2 separate regions of the Homo sapiens genome follow, and region 1 is linked to region 2. The links come from fine-mapping of genetic effects on plasma protein levels. A gene starts in region 2. The other region holds a variant in brackets. All regions are shown on one strand. Distances are from middle to middle.

The links. PIP is the chance, under the fine-mapping model, that this variant and not a neighbour inherited with it causes the effect. Protein levels are from antibody-based Olink assays in UK Biobank. Linkage for the fine-mapping came from a reference panel and not from the study's own genotypes, which makes the PIPs less certain.
Region 1: its variant is fine-mapped to the plasma level of the LAMP1 protein (UK Biobank, PIP above 0.99).

What each region holds. Positions count from the first base shown.
Region 1 is chr13:113,315,928-113,324,221 of GRCh38, reverse strand. LAMP1 (lysosomal associated membrane protein 1) reads right to left here. Exons shown (of 9, transcript NM_005561.4): 5 at 4,566-4,753; 6 at 3,752-3,877; 7 at 2,752-2,818; 8 at 2,495-2,665; 9 at 550-1,940. The coding sequence ends at 1,801. It overlaps GRTP1 (growth hormone regulated TBC protein 1), which reads left to right. Exons shown (of 8, transcript NM_024719.4): 8 at 1-59. Among named protein-coding and RNA genes, the nearest start is that of LAMP1, 23 kb to the right of the region's middle. The variant C/T (reference allele first, on the strand shown) is at 3,247.
Region 2 is chr13:113,293,734-113,302,027 of GRCh38, reverse strand. It overlaps LAMP1 (lysosomal associated membrane protein 1), which reads right to left and starts at 4,789. Exons shown (of 9, transcript NM_005561.4): 1 at 4,533-4,789. The coding sequence starts at 4,593. RefSeq lists silencers at 1,828-1,907, 1,780-2,074, 4,379-4,658 and an enhancer at 3,969-4,148.

The DNA of each region.
Region 1 (8,294 bases), 22 kb before region 2:
CTAATAAAGTATGCCAACACCTGTGTTTGTGATCAGTTTCTCAGCTGACTGGAAATTAACATAGTGAGTGGTCACTGAGGTCTTACAGCGGCAGTGTCAATATTCCATTCCTTTCTGTGACAGAGCGTGCAGTTTATGTGAGGCTTCTGCACGTAGTAGGTGATTTCTCTTTAGAAAGATCATTTTCTCCCTTCAACTTTTAACTTCTGGGTACAGGTGGAGGGTGTACAGGTCTGTTGCACAGGTAAACGTGTGCCGTGGTGATGTGCTGCACAGACCATCCTGTCACCTAGGTATGAAGCCAGCATCCCTTAGCTATTCTTCCTGATGCTCTCCCTGCCCCCGACCCAACGGGCCCCAGTGTGTGATGTTCCCCTCCTTGTGTCCATGTGTTCTCATCAGAAGCTCCCACTTACAAGTGAGAACAAGTGGTGTCTGGTTTTCTGCTCCTGTGTTAGTTTGCTGAGAATAATGGCTTCCAGCTCTATCCGTGTCCCTGCAGGGGACAAGATCTCATACCTCTTTATGGCTGCATAGTATTCCATGGTATCTGTATGAAAGGTAATTTTTTTAATGATTTAAAAATTATCATGTTACATGAATGAACCAGACAACTGTGCCAGGCACTCGGGCCACTCCCAACACCATTCCCTACGTCTGGCACCAAGACCACCCTCACCCCCCGTTTCCCTGACACCCTTCTCTCTGCACCGAGACCACCCTCAACCCCGTTTCCCTGACGTCCTTCTCTCATGAGCTCCCATTTTAGCTGACAGAAGGACAAGGCCCACCCCAAAAAGAAAGAGGCTTTTTATTACATTGTTACAGGCAATGCATTACGTGAGCTGGTCCCGTGTACAATCCCCAAGCCACGGCAAAACATCAGGAGAACGCACCGATCTCACATTGTACACAGCGCAGAACAGGATCACCCCGAATGTCAACAGAAGACCAAAAATCACTTTACAAATAAAAATAAAAATAACACCCATTTTTATATTTAAAAAAGTGCCAGCCCTTGAGCTGCAGACATTAGAGACGCCCAAGGACGTGCCGCCACTGGAACGAGGCCGCCAGCCACGTGTGGCCCGTCCTGGCCTTTAAAGCTGAACTGAAGCGCTCCAGACACTCATCTCTGGAGTTCCTCTGTCTTAGGATGTTCCCTCTCTACTGTTGTAATGTGTGAGCATGTCAGCCTCACCACGAGTGACCTTCATGCGTCCTACGTGTGACGGCCAGAGGCTTTCCCTTTGTAAGGCTTAAATCTGAGTGCAGTAAAGAATGAAGAAACCAAACACCAGAACCCTAAACTCAAATGATATGGAGCCAATTTAGAGCGGCACCCCCACCCCTCAGAGACAGCGGCATTCCACCCCTCGGAGAGAGCAGCACCCCCACCCCCTCAGAGAGAGCGGCACCCCCACCCCCTCAGAGAAAGCGGCACCCCCACCCCCTCAGAGAGAGCGGCACCCCCACCCCTCAGAGACAGCGGCACCCCCACCCCTCAGAGACAGCGGCACCCCCACCCCCTCAGAGAGAGCACCCCCACCCTCAAAATCCTACTTTGGTAAATATTAATGTTTAACCAGTTAGCAAAATATTTAACCCAGTTAGCAAAATTAACACCGTCATTTCGATAGTTACTCTGTTGTGCATAGTAAATGCTGCAAGATGAACTTCACATTGGATGAAGCAGATTTGAGAAACGTTTGCCAGAAAGTGTGCCTCCCCTTCGACAGGACCCTAAGCCCAGAGAAAGGAACAGAGGCCCCTGCAGCTGCTGTGCCTGCGTGCACCAGGCTAGATAGTCTGGTAGCCTGCGTGACTCCTCTTCCTGCCGACGAGGTAGGCGATGAGGACGATGAGGACCAGCCCCGCCAGGGCACCACCCACAGCGATGGGGATCAGCATGCTGTTCTCGTCCAGCAGACACTCCTCCACTGCCAAGACAGACGGATGGTGTCAGGGCTCTGCTCACACAGGGGCCTGCAAACAGGCCTCTCTCCCCACCACTCCCCCACATCAGCCAAAAGGCAAAGAGGAACCCTGGCGGAAGGTTCCAGCTCTAGCTGGAATTGTCACTTGGGGAAGCCGCTGCAGAGACTGGTGCTCTCTGCACGGCGAGGAAACCACACACGTCTCTCCCCCGTCTGGAATCAGGGGCTGTGGCCGGACAGCTGTGCTGCGTCCAGGGCCTCTGTGCACATCAGATGACAGTGTTGTATTCAACGTTCATGGGAGAAGCGCCACCACTGTTTCTTAAAATGATTCCCTTACTCTCAAATGGTACCAGGGGCTCCCAGCTGAGAGACACGCTGGGCCTCTCTAAAGCAGGGGGAGTTACCTCTAGAATCTCAGACCGGCAAGAAGAAACAGCTCCTTGCAGAGGAACAGGGGCGTCGCCCCAGCCCACACGGAAGCGACTAAACGTCCACAGGCGGAGTCTGAAGCACGTCCTCCACACCCCGCGACAGCTGCCCTCGGTGACACTCACCAGAGCCAAACTGGCCACCTTCCACCTTGAAAGCCTGGACCCACACTTTGAATATATTGACTGAAAACGCCTTCGTGACACGGACGTGCTCCTCCGCGTTGCACTTGTAGGAATTGCCGACTGTGGCCTGCAGCGCTCGCAGGGAGCCGTTGGCAGCTTTAAAGGCAGGGTCTGCAACACACACAGAGGTCTAGTGGCTCCAGAATACCCTGGGCGCGCGGGCGGGGGCGGGGCTCGCAGAGATTGTGGGTTCTCACCTCTGGCGTCAGGAAGAATTGTATTCAACTGGATTCCTTGTAGGAAAAACCGGCTAGAACTTGCATTCTTAAAAAGAAAAATGATCTTTAATCACGGAGCAGATTCATAGAAAGATGATCTTTAACCCCAGTAGATTCACACATTTATCATCAAACGTGAATGGTCATTGGGTAATAAACCTGACTTCCTACATTTCTAGTATTAGAACAAAACTGCAAAAGATCTTGTCTATAAAAGGCGTTGTGTATCTCTGGGGAATGAAAATTTTGGTTAGTTCCTTCCAGACCCTTCTCTGAGAGTCTTGCTCTGTCACCCAGGCTGGAGTGCAGTGGAGTGATCACGGCTCATCGCAACCTTAACTCCTGGGCTCAAGTGATCCTCCCACCTCAGCCTCCCAAGTAGCTGGGACCACAGGTGTGCGCCACTACGCCCAGCTAACTCGTTTTATTATTTGCAGAAATGGAGCCTCCCTGTGCTGCCCAGGCTGGTCCTTC[C/T]AGACCTCTTGAGAGTCAGTCTCTGGAAAACGGGGACTGCAGGAGCTATCACAGCACAGGAAAGCATGATTTGGAAAGCTAAAATTATAAGAAACTGAACTGTTAATTCATTTGCACAGCGATTTAAAAAGACTGACAAGTGACAATTATATGCTTCATGTCTTATGTTGCTAACTGCACAGGAGTCCTCCCAGGCAGAAATGCCACCACGGAACCACAGGGCAGCAGCATCTGAAGCCAGAAGGCCGCACGGCCTGCATGCCCTCCCCTGCAGCCACTCCAACTGTGGGCACAGCAGCCCCGCCCACATCATCTGCTGCATCTATGAATGGAATGGAAAGGGGGGAGGGGAACCAAGGAACTAAAAAGCCCAGGATAAAGGGAAGGCAGAAAAAAGTGAGGCCGCCTCCTTCCTAACGCTGCCTCCCATGAGCAGACCCAGGGCACAAAAAGATGTGGTGGAGACACAGTGGGCGCCCCCAGAGAGGTGCCGCCCCAGCCTCACCATCCCGAACTGGAAGAGCAGGACGGTGGTGCCCTCGCTGTGCAGCTCCAGAGTCACCAGGTGGGCGCCGCAGCTCCCGCTGGCCGAGGTCTTGTTGGGGTTGATGTTGAGAAGCCTTGTCACCGTCTGCATAAGACAAGCAAGCAAGTCACCACCCTAGCTCAGGTCCTCCACACTCTCGAAAAGACAAACAGTCCTGAAACCGTGAATTCAAGGCCACATTTGTTTTAACCAAAACCAGAAGGAAAACACTGAAAGACCACACTAGTACAGATTTCGGGATCCCAAGATGACTCTCCCTGACCCCGTGACAGCTGCTCTTGGAGTGCAGCGTCCCCGCGTGGAGGGCAACCAGCAGCACCACCTCCCCCTGCAGCAGTCAGCCCTGCAAACTCACCCCACGGCACGCAAGTCGACCCCCACAACCCCACAGCCTGTCACTACTAGGGGAGAAAAACTATTTCAAAAGAAAACTATAAAAATGTAACACTTAAATGTTTCCATGATAAATATGTAAAGAAAACTTAGGTTCTATCAGGGGCCAAGTTGTAGGCTCTGTGGGCCACACTGCCCAATAGGCCATGCTGGGACACCAGCCTTGGATGATGGAACCAGCAGGACGGCTGTGATCCTACAAAATGGACTCACTGACACAGACGCCAGCTCTTGTCCTCTAGGGTCACGTCCTGCAAGCTAAGCTCCCATCCTGACTTAACAGCATGACGTGCAGAGACGCGTGTTCTCAGTGCACAGGGAGCAGAGGCTCCAGCCCTACCGTGCCGTCCCCCTCTCCCAGGTGAGGCCCCAGCCCTACCGTGTTGTCCTTCCTCTCATAGGTGAGGTTCAGCTGCAGCCCCATGCTGGCCAGCAGGCAGGTCCCGTTGGTGCCGCTCACGTTGTACTTGTCCACAGAGGGGCTCTTGGGCACGGGTGAGGGCGAGGGGCTGGGTGGCGCAGGGGGCGCTGTGGTTGGGGAAGGCCTGTCTTGTTCACAGCGTGTCTCTGCAGGTGCAGTGGAGGGAGATTCAGGTCTGGGTTTCTCATAACCATCAGCAGTTACAGTAAGATCCAAACTCAGAAACAAAACTACATCTGTGGACTCTGGCGTCCTTGGTGACTATTTTCTCAGTCTCCCAAGGTGGCTCTCGCTAATGCCTTTCTAGACGCGCAGGAAAGAGCTGGGTCCTGCAGACGGCTCAGGGCGGTAGGCACAGGCCCGTGGGGCACCCTCAGCCTCCACCTCCCACTACCCAGGACGGTTCTGCCTGGGCAGCAGGCACCGCCCACCACACCCCAAGCCCCGTGGCTGGACAGGGGCCACTGTGCCACCCTCTTCCTAAAGTGAGGGTGAGAAAGCCTTGAACGCTGTCACGAAGGAGTGGACGCAGGAAGCTGTGCTGCGTGGCCGGCCACCTCACCCCATGGGAAATGGTGACGACTCAGACACTGCTCCCTGAGCTGTCGGGTGAGCGCCAGGATCGTGCTGGAAACACTACCCAGAGGGAAACAGAGGGTCTGCAGCACACACAGACCGGCCAGGTGGGACGCAGAGCAGCCAAGGAGGCCCTCTGGCAGGACAGGGGTCAGGCAGTCTCCATGAGGACCCCACGTGTGAGCAGAGACTCAAAGGCGGGCAAGGCTAGCCAGCTGTGTTGGGTCTTCATTTGGGGAGGGGGCTGTGGGGGATGGGCAAGCATCCTCACGAGGGAGAAGGCAGTGAGTGTGGGTGCGTCTGAAATCCCCAGACAAGAGGGCACAGTTCAGGGAATCCGTGGGGGTGGGGGGGCACATGGCACCCCTGGGGAATGCCCAGCAGTCTGAATGTGACTCTGTCCTTCAGCAATTCACCCACCAAGATGTTCACAACACAAATTTATATTCAAAGTCAAGACAGACTGAACCCTAGGTAGAGCTCTACCGAGTCTTCTGTGGCCAACACTCTCACTAACACACCATCAACCTTGAAATCAGGTTCTTTCTTTTACCACCTTGTTTCTGTGGATACTCAAGAATAATATTTATATAATTTCCACCCAATTCGATCCTTTCCACATCTCTGCTAGGCTGAGTCACCACGCGTGAGCCCCACATATCCAGGGTGGGCAACCCTGCAGGGAATCTGCCACTCATAACTCCATCAGTCACCTGCTGCTTCCGCTTCCATCTCAACATTCAGTGGCCAATTCCCACCTTCATATCCCATCTACTCAGGGCAGGAAAGAGACAGGCAACGTCGCCTATGACTGCACCCCAACGGGTTCTGAGACACACACAGGAGTGCCCCCGCACCCCGGTGTAAAAGCCCCTTCTGGACAGAGCACAAGATGGCAGAGAGGAGCTGCAGTAACCACACCAAACTCTGAAGTGAGAGGCACTGACGGCCACTGGGAGCCGTCCCAACCTGGGATGTGCTCAGGGACCCTTGCTCACTGCCCTTGGCGAAGCTGCAGGTTGACCAGTCCTTTCCAAAACAGCTTCACTTGCTGGGCGCAGTGGCTCATGCCTGTAATTCCAGGGCTTTGAGAGGCCAAGGAAGGAGGACTGCTTGAGCCCAGGAGTTCAAGGCCAGCCTGGGCAACATAGGGAGACCCCCATCTCCACAAAGTTTTTTTAAAAAATGAGCCAGGCATGGTGGCATGCGCCTTAGTCCTAGCTACTCAGAAGGCTGACTAGGGAGGGTCACTGGAGCCTGGGAGGCTGAGGCTGCAGTGAGCAGTTATTGTGCCACTGCACTCCAGCCTGGGAGACCCTGTCTCAAAAAAAAAAAAAAAAAAGCAGCTTCACGGTTCCTTTATAAAATGTTACAGACCAGGGTTAAACAGGCAAAAGTTAAATGTGCAAAACCGGCCAGTCTTGTCCAAATTCTAGTCTAGATGGCCACACGACGCACAGAAAAAGTGTAACCTACGCTGCTTTGACAATTGTTTTTCACCTGTGATCCATGTGGCACATTCATTTCCCACCCTGTTTCTGTAGAGTGGTCACAAGAAGCTGGAAACACAAATAAAACATCATCAGGTCTAACCACCAGTTTAAAAAACTGGAACTTGAGAAATAAGTGTGGATAAAATGCCCTCGTCCTTCTACCTGAATTACAAACGCAAACCCACACTCTCCTTCCCTGAATGCGTACTAAATACCAAAGTCTTTCCTGCTGAGGGCGGAGGACAGTGACGGAGAGCTCATCACGGAACGCACTGGAGAGTGCCCTGCGCTGCCCGGGGGGAGATGGTGGCACAGGAGCCTCTGGGGAGACCTGAGGGTCCACTGTCACACCTCCTCCAGCACCCTCCGGAGAGCAGCACACAGCCGGGCCTTTCCAAAGCTCATGTGCTCTGAAGGCCCCTCCTCCTCTCCCGGCAACAGCAGATACTCACATCAACCTGCAAGCTGCAATTCAGACCCTCAAGGGTGTCTGTGAGGATGAGATTGGTTTGCACCCAGGTTCCCGACTCATAGCTCCCACAGCCTCTCTTACAGTTTTTTGTGACAATGTTGGGTGTGTCAGGCCTCTGACCTTCTCCTGCCCCTTTCACCTGTCCTGAGGGACTCTCATCCTCTCCGCCTTTCTGATGGTAGTTCTTTTTTTTTTTTTTTGAGACAGAGTCTCAGTTGCTCTGCCACCCAGGCTAGAGTGCAGCGGCGCCATCTCAGCTCACTGCAACCTCCACCTCCAATGTTTTACCATCGATTCCTTCCATTTAAGCTAGGAGTCAGACTCTGTTCCTAGGAATGAAAAAAAAATGCTGCAGCTGGGCACGGTGGCTCACGCCTGTAATCCCAGCACTTTGGGAGGCCGAGGCGGGCGGATCACGAGGTCAGGAGATCAAGACCATCCTGGTTAACACGGTGAAACCCCGTCTCTACTAAAAATACAAAAATTAGCCAGGCGTGGTGGCGGGCGCCTACAGTCCCACCTACTTGGGAGGCTGAGGCAGAAGAATGGCGTGAACCCAGGAGGCGGAGCTTGCAGTGAGCAGAGATCACGCCACTGCACTCCAGCCTGGGGTGACAGAGCGGGACTCTGCCTCAAAAAAAAAAAAAAAAAATCATGCCAAATTGGGTGGGAGATGAGACACGGTGACCTTCATTTTCAACTCCTAACAGGAGTCAGGCAGTCCTCTGATTCATTCAACAAGCGTGCACCTATCAGACCCTGAGGATAAAAGACGAAGACACCCCACTCCTCCCGGTGAACTCATAAACCCAAAAGCCTGGCTGAGCCTCACTGTAGATCTGCTAACCCCATATGGGCCTGGGCTGGAAATCCGGTTTGGATGGATATCTGGCTGACTCCAGCCTCAGGCAGAGCTGCACTCAGACCCTCTGGAGTGACAGTCATCTGCCCTACTTTGTTTTTTTGTTTTTGAGATGGAATCTCACTCTGTCAGCTGGGCTGGAGTGCAGTAGCATGATCTCAGCTCACTGCAACCTCCACCTCTCGGGTTCAAGCAATTCTCCTGCCTCAGCCTCCTGAGTAGGGGGGACTACAGGCACCTGCCACCACGCCCGACTAATTTTTATATTTTTAGTAGAGACGGGT
Region 2 (8,294 bases):
AGCCGGGCATGGTGGCGCATGCCTGTAATCCCTGGTACTCGGGAGGCTGAGGCAGGAGAATGGCGTGAACCTGGGAGGCGGAGCTTGCAGTGAGCCGAGATCGCACCACTGCACTCCAGCCTGGGCGACAGAGCGAGACTCCGTCTCAAAAAAAAAAAAAAAAAAAAAAGAAATCACATCTTAGTTTTTCTTGGCTTGATTCTTTTAAATATGGTATTTTTATTCTACTTAACCAATGATGCACAATCATTTATGAAGAACTAAAGGAAAAAAATACCATCCCAGGCACTGAATCACAACCTCTAGAGGCAAGGTATAAGTGTGTGTGTGTGTAAATATATATATATATATATATATATATATATATATATATATATATATATTTTTTTTTTTTTTTTTTAAATGGAAACAGAGTCTCACTCTGTCACCCAGGCTGGAGTCCAGTAGCATGATCTTCGCTCACTGCAACCTCCGCCTCCCGGGCTCAAGCAATTCTCCTACCTCAGCCTTCCAAGTAGCTATGACTACAGGGGTACGCCACCATGCCCGACTAATTTTTTTTGTATTTTAGTAGAGATGGGATTTCACCATATTGCCCAGGCTGGTCTCGAACTCCTGAGCTCAGGCAATCCACCCACCTCGGCCTCCCAAAGTGTTAGGATTACACGTGACAGCCACCGTGCCCGGCCGTATATTTCTTTTTAATTTTTTTTGTAGAGACACTGGTCTCGCCATGTTGCCCAGGCTGATCTCAAGCAATCCTCCTGCCTTAGCCTCAAAGCACTGAGATGACAGGCATGAGCCACTGTGCCTCGCTGTGGTATGTATATTTCTAAAAAGCTGATCGTGTGGATCCGTGCATATGTTTGGTTGAGAGCCACTGCTATAAAATTGATCCTTTCTTCATATATGTACTCAGCACTTACTACCTGTCAGTTAAGGAAGGGAGATACACAGGCAAAAATAATCCCAGTGCAGCCGAACAGATGTTACCATGTAGAAGCACATGCAATAAAAGTCTTGGGTACAGAGAAGAAAGGGTAACGTTGTCTGGGATGGGGCTAATGCAATACAAATTCAAAATTACAGGGCTACAAAGACATTCTGACCTCAAATCTGCTGACAAATTCATTCTTTCCACCGCATAACTGACAATCTGCACAATCAAAGGTAACATCGGTTAGTAGAAAAAAAATTTTTTTCTTTGTTTTTTTGAGATGGAGTCTCGCTCTGTTGCCCTGAAGAGCAGTGGCACGATCTCGGCTCACTGCAACCTCCACCTTCCGGGTTCAAGCAGTTCTCCTGCCTCAGCCTCCTGAGTAACTGGGACTACAGGCCTGTGCCACTACGCCTGGCTAACTTTTTAAAAATATTTTTAAAAAGAATAGAGATGGAGTTTCACCATGTTGTGGCCAGGATGGTCTCGATCTCTTGACCTAGTGATCGGCCTGCCTCAGCCTCCCAAAGTGCTGGGATTACAGGCATGAGCCACCACACCCAGCTTTTCTTTCTTTTCTTTTTCTTTTTTTTTTTTTTTTTTTGACATTGAGTTTCGATTTTGTTGCCCAGGCTGGAGTGCAATGGCACGATCTCAGCTCCCTGCAACCCCTGCCTCCCAGGTTCAAGCAATTCTCCTGCCTCAGCCTCCCACGTAGCTGGAATTACAGGCGCCTGCCACCACACCACGCCTGGCTAATTTTTGTATTCTTAGTAGAGACGGGGTTTCACCACATTGGCCAGGCTGGTCTCAAACCCCTGACTTCAGCTGATCCGCCCACCTGGGCCTCCCAAAGTGCTGAGATTACAGGCGTGAACCACTGCACCCAGCCGAGTATAAAATTGTTCAAACCTCCTAAGTGACAGTTGTTCAAGTGGAAAGGGTAAGGCGGTCATCCTGCTGACATCAATGGTTTAAAGGGTCACATTACGCAATCACAGCTAATCCTATCTATCAGGACAAGTTTCAGTTCATGTTTGAGCTTTCTAAGTATTCAAACACAGTAGCTTTAAACAATGCCTAATTATTAATATAGTGGAAATTTGTAATTGAGCAGTTTCTTTTTTTAAGAAAAAAGGATTTTTGGTGAAATCGCACATTAAAATAAACATTTTAAATATCTTTAAATGCAAGTTGTTAAAAGGCCTTTTTTAAAAGTTGGATTTTGGCTAGGCACGGTGGCTCATGGCTGTAATCCCAGCACTTTGGGAGTCTGAGGCAGGTGGATCACGAGGTCAGTTCGAGACCAGCCTGGCCAGCATGGTGAAACCCCATCTCTACTAAAACTACAAAAATTAGCCAGGCATGGTGGCGCGCACCTGTAGTCCCAGCTACTAGGGAGGCTGAGGCAGGAGAACTGCTTGAACACAAGAGGCGGAGGCTGCAGTGAACGGAGATCACGCCACTGCACTCCAGCCTGGGTGACAGAGTGAGACTCTGCCTCAAAAAAAAAAAAAAAAAATTCTTGGGCCAAGTACGGTGGCTCAAACCCGTACTCCCAGCACTTTGGGAGGCAGAGGGAGGCGGATCACGAGGTCGGGAGATCGAGACCAGTCTAACCAACATAGTTAAACCTAGTCTCTACCAAAAATACATAAATTAGCCTAGCATAGTGGCGGGTGCCTGTAATCCCAGCTACTCAGGAAGCTGAGGCAGAAGAATTGCTCGAACCCAGGAGGCAGAAGTTGTAGTGAGCCGAGGTTGTGCCACTGCACTCCAGCCTGGGCACAGAGCAACTCCGCCTCAAAAAAAAAAAGTTAAGATTGTAAACATAAAAGATATAATGGAACAGATCTTAGAAGACTGATTACACAAGCAATATTCCAATCACAATATTAGGGAGTTATGGATTTTTTCTCTTCATTTTTAAAGTTAATTTTTTTTTTGTTTTGAGACGGAGTCTCCCTCAGTTGCCCAGGCTGGAGTGCAGTGGCTTGATCTCAGCTCACTGCAACCTCTGCTTCCCGGGTTCAAGCAATTCTTCTGCCTCAGCCTACCAAGTAGCTGGGATTACAGGCGTGCGCCACCATGCCCAGCTAATTTTTGTATTTTTGTAGAGACCGGGTTTCGCCATATTGGCCAGGCTGGTCTCGAACTCCTGACGCCATGATCCATCTGCCTCGGCCACCCAAAGTGTTGGGATTAAAGGCGTGAGCCACTGCTCCCGGCCTGAAGTGAGTTTTTAAAACATGAAACAAAACATCAAAGTTATGAGGCTTGTGAGCATCTGTAACAAAGAACAATGCAGTTGCTGTGACATGACAAAACTTGTTTCTGCAACTCCTTTCATTAACTACACCTGACCCTGTCGCAGGAGCTGAGCAAGGCTTCAGGCTTACTATTGGAATAAGTTCATCTCTGTGGCTATTCAGGCAGTTCAAAGAATTCATTTTACACAACAGGCAAAACAAAAAAGGGAAGCCAAGATCCATTCACTCACAGTAACAGAGTTTTACAGCTGGATGGGACTGAGGGATTTAAAGAAGTCAAGGCAGATGTGTACAGGAGTGTATTTCTATATCTACTTAACTCACACACACTCCCCCAGCTTGATTCTACATCACCTTTCAGATCCTGGCATTTAAGATAATCTTCTCATATTACGGGGGAGGGCGGCGGGGGGAGGAGGTGAAAGAATAGTGTTGGCGGGGGGCAATCCGGACTGTCTTAAAGAGACAGCACACATCCTCTTATTAAGACAATAAATGAGAACGAAATTCACTAGTCAATACAATATTGAGCACCTACTGCCCATCTGAGCTCTATAAACTGACAGAAGAGAAGGGTGCTTCCCCACGTGTTCCCTGGTCCCGCATTTCGGCCTACAGGAACGGCGCTCTTTAAACTACTTACTAGACATGAACATTGCCACCGTGAGTCTGAGGCCAGCTTTCCCTCATCTTGTCTACTACGGAATCTTGTGAAATCCCAAAGATAACTTTAAAAATTATTTTAACATACATGTGAATTCACAATAACATAAATACACTCGCATCTCCTCCACACCGCTGAAAGAGGAGAAAGGTTCAAGTACAAAGGTGGGGAATGCTCGCACCGGCTTCTCCCTGTCCTGGGTGAAATCCATGTTGGGAAGAGCTTGATCTAGGTCACCCACCCGGGAGCTGAGACCACAGACGTCCCTGCCACCTTCGGCGGCGCAGCCTCGTCTAGATCTCACCGCCTCAACTTGCCAGGAAACTTAACGACCTGAAAGCACCAGACCGCCGAGCAAGCCATCGGAAGTTCCCTTTCGCACTCACCACCACAGAAAAACTGAGTTCAGTGAGACAGACCTTAGAGGAGCCAGGTCCTGGGATGAGACCTCCTGGTCCCCCAAGCACCTGCCATTGAGCTCCGCTCCGACCCTACGACCCCGAGAGAAACACCCGCCCGCGGGCAGAGCCGGCCGGGACCAGGAGCAGTGGGTGCGGGGCGACCCGCGGGACAACGACCCGGCAGTCCCCCGCCCTCAAGACCCAGGGACCTCGGCTCCGCCCGGTCCCGCCGCTCCCAGGCCCCGCCTCGACCCCCTCACCGAGCAGCAGCAACAGCAGTAGCAGCAGCAGGGGTCGCCGGGCGCTGCCGGGGGCCGCCATGGCGCGAGGCGGCCGGGTACGGTGCGGGGAGCGGGGGCGCGGGCGGCGGTTGGGCCGCGGACTGCCGGGCGCTGCGGTGGCGGGGCGCGGGCGCCAAGGGCTGGCGTTAGAGACAGCGGCGTTACCAGACGCAAGAGGCCCGGCCACTGCGACGCCGGCACGAAGAAGACACCGCGGCCGGCAGCGCTTGTCACGTGAGCTGCGCCGCGCCCGGGCGTCACGTGATCCCGCGGGTCTCGCGAGAGCGCGCGCGTCGAGCGCCGGCGGCTCGGCTCCCCGCAGGTGCGGCAGCTTCCAGCACCGCGCGCCCCCTCACGCGTGATGCAGGCCGACACGTGACCCGCAGCGGCACGTGACCCGCAGCGGCACGTGACCCTGGACCCACGTGACCCGGCCTGGTCCGGGGGACTGGGGCCGAGCCGAGGTCCTGAAACGGGAAGTGGGCTGGGTTCGCGGAAAAGGAAGAGGAAGAGTAGTGGCGGGAGAAAGTGAGGAAAGAGGAAGCCCGCGAGGGGAGAAAGGGCAGACGGATCGCGGACGCCCAGGCCTCCCTTCAGCCTGCGAGGCGTCCCAAACGCGGGCTCTTTATGGACAGGAGGGTGGTGTGGGTGGCAGCGCGGGTGACCGGCCGGGTGCGCGGCCAGGGATGGGCGAAGGGTTTGTCTTTTGGTGAGTGGGAAGCAAGTTCCTCACACAGGGAGGCCACTGTGCCCAAACTCTTGAGTGGTTTTAGGAAGGAAATAAGGGATCTGAAATGGGTCAGTGCGGCCTTCCGCTCGTTAATCGCGGGCTGAGGGAAGACGGCACCAGGCTGCCCAAGGTGAAGGTGAAGGTGCGATGGCGATACTCTTTGGCTTACAGAAAGTTCCTGTCGAGCACTTTGTTTTTTTTTTTGAGACGGAGTCTCGCTCTGTCGCCCAGGCTGGAGTGCAGTGGCGCGATCTCGGCTCGCTGTAACCTCCGCCTCCCGGGTTCAAGCGATTCTCTTGCCTCAGCCTCCCAAGTAGCTGGGATTACAGGCGTGCGCCACCACGCCCGGCTGATTTTGTATGTTGAGTAGAGACGGGGTTTCACCAGTTGGCCAGGCTGGTCTCGAACTCCTGACCTCAAGCAATCCACCCGCCTCGGCCTCCCAAAGTGCTGAGATTACAGCCCTGAGCCACGGCGCCTGGCTCCTGCATTTTAGAAGTCTGAAGATGCTCTGTTTTTTGGCTTGTCATCATATAGGATTTATGGCCTTTTGTTAAAATACTATTTAATTAAGGCCCCTACGCTACTGCTTTGTATAAAGCACCCGTCGCATAAGTACCTACATCTTAGAAAAAGATTTAATCTTACATTTCAAAAGGCATCATAGCAACGGGGACTGGATGTGCACCTAGTTAATAGAGACAGCACTCAGCCAGATAAAGACAGGACCAGGCACTCACTATCAGTCCTCACCAGAGGACTGTGACCTTAAAAAGGGCGGGATTTGACCAATTCAACACTGGCATTTTGATAGACCCCACCTTGCTGTCACTTGTGCTTAGCACCCTGCATCTGCTGCCTAAGGATCTGCTCACATCAAGGACTTCCTTGGAAGACAATGACTTCTGTCTGGATCAGGCTGGAATACACTCCTTGTTCCCGTCATTGCTTTCCTTGGATTGATCCATTAACCCCTTTTCCTATCCTCTTTCTCTTGATGTCCAATGTTACTTTGTTTGATGGGGAATGTTTAAACCATAGCGTTTGTATTTTAAGTACACTATGATGTATAGTTTGCAGTATTGACTGACACGTGGACTGGCTTGAGCCTTTGCCCATGGCTCTACCAAGTTAACAAGTAGTACTGAAGGGAATTGTCTCGAGGCAACTCCTCGTAGCTCGTGGCTTTTATAATTGAAATAGCATCAATATATTCCCACCCTGTGGAAAGACATAAACGTGTGTGGACCTGGTTATGTCTGACCTTGTGCTGTTCACAACATGCCTTGAGAGAGAAATACTTCTGAACTGAGGCCTCTCACACGATGGGTACAGCAAGTGCTAATAAACTTCTGCTTGTTTCTCCTGTTGCTCTGAATTTTGTTTTCAGGAGAATGTCTCAACTAATAAAGAGAGAAAGAAGAGAAATTATATTTTCTCCCCTGCAGTGGAATGAGACAATTACGCGAAACTCTGGAGGTTTAAATTCGGGGACTCCTCTGATCCACTGCTTCTTAAGGAGGCTAGAAGTAGGGTTTAGAAAGTAGGAGAGGTGTTTGAACAAGCATACTGAATATTACAGTTTTATGGTGCAAAACAAAAACCTGCTTAACAATGCAAAAATAGAATCTAATGCTGGACAAAATCTTGGTTGAAGGAGGTTCAGAGATGACATGATTCCCACACTGTGTCCTAAAGTGTGTATCAGAACGGAGGGAGGGCATTTATCAAAAAAAGGCTCAGAAACACTCATCTAGTCCAAACCATACATATCTGTTCTTTCCTTTCCTGCTGCTGCCCCATGCTCTGGCCATACTCATCTATTTACTTCACCTGTCTCCACTTTTTTGTGGTTACAATTATTTAGACAAAGTGATGCCCTACTCCCTCCCTCCCTTCTTTTCTTTTCTTTTTTTCTTCTTTTTCTGATTCTTTCCTTTTTCTTTTCTTCCCCCTTCTTTCTTTTTTGTTTTGTTTTGTTTTGTGACAGGATTTCTCTCTGTCTCCCAGGCTGGAGTGCAGTGTTGGAATCAAGGCTCACTGCAGCCTCAAGCGGCCTTCCCACCTCAGCGTCCTAAGTAGATGGGACTACCGGTGCACACCATCACACCTGGCCAATTTTTAAAAAATTGGCTGGGATCACAGGCATGCACCACCATGCCAAGCTAATTTTTGTGTTTTTAGTAGAGACAGGGTTTCACTATGTTGTCCAGGCTGTTGAACTCCTGACCTCAAGTGATCCACCCTCCTTGGCTTCCCAAAGTGCTGGGAATACAGGCATGAGCCACCGCGCCTGACCTTTTTTTTTTTTTTTTTCACATTTTATAGCTTTTCTTTGTTTTTTAAGTTAGGAATTCAGTGTGGAATATATTTCCCTGAAGACATTGTTAACCTAAAATAATCAAGAGTCAGAATCTACTTTAAAGAGAGATTATTCAAGTGCAAAGTTTGAGGACAGGCCGCCCAGGAAGCACAGATTCCAAAGAACAGAAGTCGGTGTTCTGAAATGTAGCAGTTTGGGATCATTTCTATAGATGAAGTTTAGGGAAACTTAACACAATTCCAGCATCTTTCTCTCTGAGGGTGAATGCACAGTTACTGTGCTCCGATTAGCCAAGGTGGTCTTTTCCTATTGGGAAAGGTATGTTTGGCGTTCCACACGGACTACGTCACGGGGTCGTCGTGCCATCTAGTCTGAGTTAGGACAGATGCACAGGACAATGAAGGAGGCGGCTGGTCCACAGCAAAGATCAGTAATGGGAAGCGGGGAAGTCTGGTCTCTGGTCTCTCCTAGTCATTTACAAAACAAGAACAAGAGGCTGTGTGGTCACCTGTCAGCCTAACCAGTCCAAGAAGCTGAAGTTGCAAACGTGCTGCATGACTCAGGCCACAGGGCCTAGCTTCCCGCTTGGCACAAGAAACAGGCTCCTGAAATTTTCTTCTGCAGTTTCTGCCACAAGAGTTCAGGTTTGGAAGCTGATACATGGGCTCAGTATTTGAAATAAAGTAGT